Linked DNA regions of Homo sapiens. The protein of the gene in region 2 purifies or fractionates together with the protein of the main gene of each other region. This does not show direct contact. Each region holds a gene or a part of one and is shown on either strand. Other genes may lie near its edges.

The links. The genes of interacting proteins can lie anywhere in the genome.
Region 1: the proteins of TUBAL3 (region 2) and KATNAL2 purify together in Homo sapiens (tandem affinity purification; one large-scale study listed by IntAct). This does not show direct contact.

What each region holds. Positions count from the first base shown.
Region 1 is NC_000018.10:47,053,464-47,057,117, forward strand, and holds part of KATNAL2 (katanin p60 ATPase-containing subunit A-like 2), read left to right. Parts: intron 1-932; coding exon 933-975; exon of another isoform or gene 976-987; intron 988-3,654.
Region 2 is NC_000010.11:5,402,585-5,406,338, forward strand, and holds the start of TUBAL3 (tubulin alpha chain-like 3), read right to left. Parts: upstream 2,245-3,754; 5' UTR 2,209-2,244; coding exon 2,206-2,208; intron 1-2,205. UniProt on the Homo sapiens protein: Tubulin is the major constituent of microtubules, a cylinder consisting of laterally associated linear protofilaments composed of alpha- and beta-tubulin heterodimers.

The sequences.
Region 1 (3,654 bases), on a different chromosome or scaffold from region 2:
TATAGATAATGAAAAGCTTTTGAAAGCCATCAATCCAGATAATGATCAATATAATATAAAAACCCAGTATAGGTTAGCAGTCAACAAGGCTGGCTGGAGGAAAGATCTAAAGTGGGGGCCCTGTGCTTTGTAGTAACATTGACTGAGAAGTCTGTAAGTGGGGGAAGTAATTATAAACCAAGGGAGATCATTGTCCTGTTTACAAGCCACTTGTTAAGCCACAGACTTTAACATTTCATGTAGGGACCGGGAAACCAAGAGGAACATCAATTTAAAATAGCCAGGGCCAGATCTCAGAGCTAGAAAAGGTCAAAGAGGTATTTTATCTGAGCTCCCTTCCAATGCAGCATTCAGAGCTTGACTTCCTTGGCAGGTGGTTAGATGTGGGCCTTGAAGAGACAGCCCAGACTCCTAAACACAGGGTGATCAGCACTGTTAGTGACATGATCTCACTTCCAGATGGCTAGTTCCCATCTAGCATGATACCCAAATTCTCCTATGATATTGGACACGTTATTTTTATTTTAACTAGCAGAGTATGACTTCAGTGTTCCCTGCCAGATTCGTGCAATCATCCTGGTGTCCCATGTAATGCAGCAAAATGGTGTCAAGTTCATGAAAGCGTAATGAAATGGTAGCTGTAAAGCTAGCCTATATTGGAGTTGCCACCAGGTCCACAGTCTCTGACATGTTTAATATCTGAGCCCTTTGCAATCTTCCTCTGTGAGGAGATGCTGGAGAAGCTCAGGCCTCTTTCTCTTCGCTGGTAATTTCAGTTCTCTCTAGATGAGAATAGCTTAAAGTCTCTAGATTCCAATTGGTTAAAACTCAAATTTTAAGAACAATGCAAAAAGGGGAAACATACCTGAAAAAAATCACTTTGTCACTCTTAAAATTATTTTCTTTCCCTCCCAATGTCTGTTTTGTCACAGCAGAAAATAATTTACCGCAAAGAAGTAGAGGGAAGACCAGAAGGTAAAGTGAATGGTAATTCTTCTTAATCGACTCGGCTCGAGGAGCTTGTGGAATCCCTTTCCAGAAGCTTTACCATCACAGCTCTGTGACTGTCTCCCAGCAATACTGACTGCAGTCATGTGACCTGGCCCAGCCCAGGACTTCTCTCATTACAGCTGCCCCAGATTTGGGCCAATGTCCGTCTACTCTCCTGGTTTTACTGTAAATAAGTATATCCTGTGATGCTCTGTCTTTCCAGGCCATGTGGTATGAAAAGTCTTAACCTCAAAGGTTAAAAGACCCAGGTTCAACTCCTGGCTCTGCTATTTACAAGCATGGAGCAAGTTTTGGACACATAGTGAGTTCCTGGCACACAGTGAGCACCCAAGATATAATATTTTCCCTCTTTTCATCATTTAGTTAATTTCAAGCACTCCCAGATCAGATGTCCTGACCTGTCTGAAGATCAACAATGAGCCAGGAGGTGTGAGCTCAGGCTTCTGGCTTCGCCAGTCCTGACCAGTGGGGACCCATTCTTCTCTTGCTTTTCCCTCCTGTTCACAGCTCATCTTGCATTCCTTTCTCCAGCTTCTCAAGTCCAAATCTCATTTGGGGCTTGTAGCCTCTGATGGGAGCCCCTCTGTCTCTGGACCTTTTTGGGTGCACATATTCTCTCACAAGGCCCCCTACTCTTGCCAGTGTCCTTCGCATTCCTCTCGCCCCACTCCCATAGACCCCTCCACTGTCAGAGCTGTTCAGAAATACCCAGGGGAACAAGGGTGCTGCTGCCGGCTGCCAGTGAGGGCCAGCTCTGGGGCATCGCAACCTGTGGGCTGTTGCTATTACAGTAGGGCCTAAACCTCATGGAAAGACACAGCCATCCAAGCAGTCAACAAAGTGTTTAAAGTCTTAAAATGCTCTTGGAAAAAGAAAAGTTAGATTGTAATCACATGCAACTTATTAGGCCCTCAAGAGGTATGGATTCTGTTATGCCTCCGCTACATTTCCCACCCCTGCGACTCCAGTTCCCTTGTTCCAGCCTCAGAAGGAAGGGCCTAGGACACTTTACAGGGCTGGTGGGCACAGCTTGCAAAAATGGCTGTGGAGCCCACGCACGCTCCACGATCCTACTTGTTATAATACTTGGCCTCGGGCTACCTTTGCTTTGTGCTATTCTGCAGGAAGAGTTTTATCGCTTTGACAAAAGTGTTATTCTTTTATTTATAGTTTCCACAAAGTTAGTCAGACTCTGGGTAATAAATGATAACTGCTTGTGCATAGAAATCATGAGGAGCGTTTGCAGCCAGCTTCGGAAGGCTTTTGGATTCTATTTTTCTGGAACCTTCTCAGCATTCTTCCCTGGCAAATGCTCTGTGAGTGAATGGTGTCAGAGTGCTTTGTTCCCCTTAGGCAAGGAGCACCGTGGCACATTTGACAGTGTGGGGGCTCCTCAGCTCCTCTCTGAGTAGATGTTTGTATGTGGCAAGTGTAAAAGTTGAATAGCAAATGGTTAGAATCAGGAGGAATAACTAGGAAAGTAATGAATGGTGTTTCTGCGGACAATTTATACTCAAATATAGTTACTAAAATGAGACATGTCATGAGACTGGCTATTAGCAAATCAAAGTGTCTTTTCCTAATCTTGGAAAAGATTTATAATCCCCACTTAAAGATTTGCTGATGAACCAAGGGAGGAAAGGTTATCTAATGTGATGGATGACAGAAATGGGATCCCAAAAGATCTTGGCAATTCCAGAGATGGGTTCAAAGTAACAAGACGAAATTTAATAAAATAAGGTTTAAGCTCTAACAAGAGTTACAACAAATAGCTCCTCCATTACAAAATCAGAGACCTGGAAATCTCAGTTTACCTGGGCCAACAGTGTGACATGAGTGCTACTGTGGTCCCAGCCCCATCAATAGAAATACAGTGTCCAAAAAATAGGAGGTCACACTATTCTGGAAGGTGACCAGTATGAGGAACAATCTGGGAACCAGGTAACTTTAGAAATGACTAGAGCAACTGCAGATGTTGAGCTTGAACAGATGGCTGGTGGAGGGGCACTCCTTAGAACATTGCAGGAACAGGCTTCAGTTCACCCTCTAAAGGGCGATTGGGCCTTTTCTGCCAAATTCCACAGGGTGCACCTAGGACTAATGGTTAAAGTCAAAGCAGAGTGAATTTGGTTCCATGTTCAGAAGAATTTTACCATCCTCAGAACCAATTTAAAATAAATTGCATTGCTTTGTACATTAGTGCTCTTGTATTTTGGTCTTGTTAAAGCAGATCTTGGGGATCAGTTGCATCCAATGGGAAATCAAAGTGGGAATATAGAATCCCTGTTTCCTGCCAGCTCCACAAGGATGGTGAGGCAAGTTTAAATACAGACACACACACACACAAACACATAAACACACACACACACTTCCACACACACATATATAACTTCTCTTGAGTCAACACTATTAATATAAGTTTGCATTTGTAAAATGCTTGGTTTTCATTTCATAGATATTTTATTTTTGTGCCAGCAAAAGGGTAGAGAAAGACATTCTTATTCCTAGTTTAAAGATAGAAAAAAAAAACCCCAAGAACTGTTAGTGTCCACTTCTCATGACGCTCTCCCCAGTGAGACCAACACTCACAGATGTGTCACCATGTGGACATTGGTGGTGTTATCGACATGTGTGGTCTTGCTG
Region 2 (3,754 bases):
GGGGTCCCCAACCCCCGGGCCACAGACCAGTACCAGTCTGTGCCCTGTTAGGAACTGGGCTTTACAGAAGGAGGTGAGCAGCAGGTGAGTGAGCATTACTGACTGAGCTCTGCCTCCTGTCGGATCAGCGGCAGCATTAGATTCTCATAGGGGCACTAACCCTATTGTGAACTGCGCATGCAAGGGATCTAGGTTGTGTGCTCCTTATGAGAATCTAACTAATGCCTGACGATCTGAGGTGGAACAGTTTCATCCAGAAACCATCCCCACTGCCGACTCCATGGAAAAATTGTGTCCCACAAAACTGGTTCCTGGTGCCAAAAAGTTGAGGACCACTGGTCTACACAGACCACTAGTCAGAGGAAAGTAAGGAGAGGGCTCTGGTCGGCCACACCCCTGCAATCTGACTTGGACTCTGTTCATGCTCAATGGCATCAAACCTTTGTACTTTGTCTCTGTGATTCACAAGGCATAACAGCCCTCTGCTTCATGACCAATTCAAGTTCACTACCTTAGTAGGGCTTCCATCTTGTTTATTTTCTGTGCAACTATCAGTCTCTCTAATTTAGAAAGCACTTCATTTAGGACAAACTAATATTCCACCTCTCAAGACAGCATATTCTGTTATAAACAGGCTTCGAATACCCCTTATCAGGCTTCAGATAACCTTAATCTTATTCCTCTCCCCTTCTGTCGGACTTAAAGTGCTGCAAATACATCAGCTGCTGTAATCTGATCAAAACTTGGCTCCTTAAATTTAAGTTAACATTTTAAAAGGAGAGGGTGAACGTTCATTGTTTCTACATCATTAAAACCTCTTACTTTGTAAAGTTTACATGTAGATTTCTCTGTCTTCTCCACTGGCTACCACCCAGTCCTGTGTTACAGTGACGAGTAAAATTCAGGTGTACATGTGGTATTTGTTCATAATAGTCACAGTAAAAATAATCACTAACATTAAAAAAAAAAAAGATTGTTCCTCTTCACGTGGTCTGTTCAAGTGACTCAGAAAGCAGAGTGATGCTGTTCTTTTTGAAATCAGCACGAATAGCCTGGACTAACAAGCATCCTTCGTCTTTGAAGGAGCTTAGCTTATAACATAACTCTGTCCAAGGGTGTAGAAGACTATCTTTGCCTTATTCTTCTCTTAGCCTCTCCCTTTTTTTCCAAATTCTCTATGAAAATATTAGTCACACTATAAAGTAGAAGACTATAAAATGTCCACTGAACGTCAACACTGATAAGTCATAGCACATTATTAAACGCTGCTATAAGGATTATTTGAATTACTAGAAAAGCATAACTCTCAGTTAAACTTTCAATTTTGAGGTCTTTGTAGATTGATATGCAGCTGTGAGAAATAACATAGGAAGATCCCTTGCATCCGTTACCCATTTCCCGCAGTGGAAACATCTTGCAAGACCATAATACAAAATCACACCCAGAATGTTGACAGTGATAAGATACAGAACATGCTATTATCACAAGTCTCTCTCATGTTGAAAGGCATAATTTTTAAAAGCAAAACAATTTAAAATTTTTTAAATGTTGGACAGAGAGACCAATGGGGTGAGAAATCAAAGATCAAGAAGCAGTTCGAAATGTTGCTTCCATTGAAGAATTAAAAATTCAAAGATACTGAAAAACTGGCACAGAAAAAAATAAAGGGCAAATGGATCTGAAAAGGTCATCCCAAAACAGAATTATTGTAAGTTATTCTATTCATTGTGGTGCCCAAAGAACTAAACTCAAGGGAGGGCAAAGAAGATGTCTGCGCACTTTACCCTGCCAGGCATTTATGAGGTTAGCCACGGTTACCTAAGTCTGAAGTCCTCAGAAACTCTTAACAGCCTAACGAAAAGTGAAGCAATGAATATCTACAGAAAAATCAGCACTCTGGGCCTAAAACAAAGGTGAAAACTAAAGGAAGGAAAGGTTTTTGCTTCAGTGCTTCAATTAATGGCAGTGAGCTACTGCAAATCAACTGAGCTTTACCTTGAAAGAAGCAACATTACAGAGGAATAGATTACAGCCTGTCCACATCTGCTCCCAACTCATCTACTTGGACATTGAAAGAAACAAATGTTTCTTTACAAATGTCTTCTCTTGCATTACAATTTTATTAAGAATTGTTTGCTGTGGGAAAAGGGCCAAATATGATTAGTAAAATTTCCTACAACAATGCATAGGCGTGTAGTCACTTACCATGCTGATGAGAACGTGCCCTTCCTGCCCTGTAGTAATGACTGAGGAGCCTCCCAGCTGAGCTTTATCACAGGGCCCGGAAATGACTCCACCTGAGGGCTGGAGCTTTCTTCACTTAAAGCAGTATAGCTTCTTTTTAGTTTTTTTAGTTATCTGGTCTCAGAGTAGCTGTGTTGGGCCTGAACAACCCGGGATAAAGTTTGTACACAGCTGCAGATGAACTACTGAGAGCTTATCCAAATCTGCGTCCAACTTATAACTATGTTGAAAAGAACATGTGTCTTTTAAAAATCACCCTTTTGGGTTAAGAATTTATTTAGCATTGGCAGAGAAAAGGAAGGAGTATGAGTAAAATTTTCTGCAACAGCAAAGTAGCTTTTTCTATTGCATGAGTACTATGTGAATATCTTCTTAAATAAATTTAAACAATCCCTGAATACATACAGCAAACCAAGACAGTGTCCTTTTTACATCTGTGTCCTATGCATGCCTCTCAACCACTACCACATCCAAACATATGGGAATTTTCTGTTTTTATTATTATTGTCTTTTGAACTTTTATATTATTATACATAATATATACTTATGTTATTATTTTTTATTAATTGCACTAAGATCAGATCACACATCTTAACTGAGTTCTCTCCTTATATATTTGCTAAAGCTTCCTTTATATTCTACTATATGGTCAATTTTTGAAAATATTCCATGAGTGTTGAAAAGAATGTGCATTCTACATTTGTTGGATGCAATATTTTAGATAGACCGATCATTCAATCAATCAATCTATTAAATCAAATGGATTTATTGTGTAGTCCAAATTTTACGTATCAATTATTTCAAAAGATGTATTAAAAGTTTTCATTATAATTGTGAATTTACCCATTATTTCTTTTTCTGTCAATTTTTCCTTTATACATTTTGAGGCCATGTTATGAAGAGCACATAAATTTTAAATTATTATATTTTCAAAAACTTTAACAATTTTTTATTTTTAAATTACCCTCCTTATATACATTAATTATTTTTACCTTAAAGTTTTTTTTTTTTTTTTTTTGAGATGCAGTCTTGCTCTGTCGTCCAGGTTGGAGTGCAATGGTGCGATCTCAACTCACTGCAACCTCCACCTCCCAGGTTCAAGCGATTCTTCTGCCTCAGCCTCTCAAGTAGCTGGGATTACAGGTGTGTGCCACTATTCCTAGCTAATTTTTTTGTATTTTTGATAGAGACAGGGTTTCACCATGTTGGCCAGGCTGGTCTTGATCTCCTGACCTCGTGATCTGCCCGCCTTGGCCTACCTTAAAGTTTTTATGATCAAATATTAATATTACTACTTTAATACAGTTTTTTGGTTCACATTTGAATGATGTATTTTCCCATCGTTTTACATTCTTAGAAACTTAAAACCTTTCCATATTCTCATATTTTGGATGTGTTCTTTGTATGCATGATATAACTGAATTTTTTTTCTATTTTTGTATTTGAATTGGAGAATTCAGCTCATTACATTTAATATAATAACTAATATAGTTGGGTTTAGATATAGAGT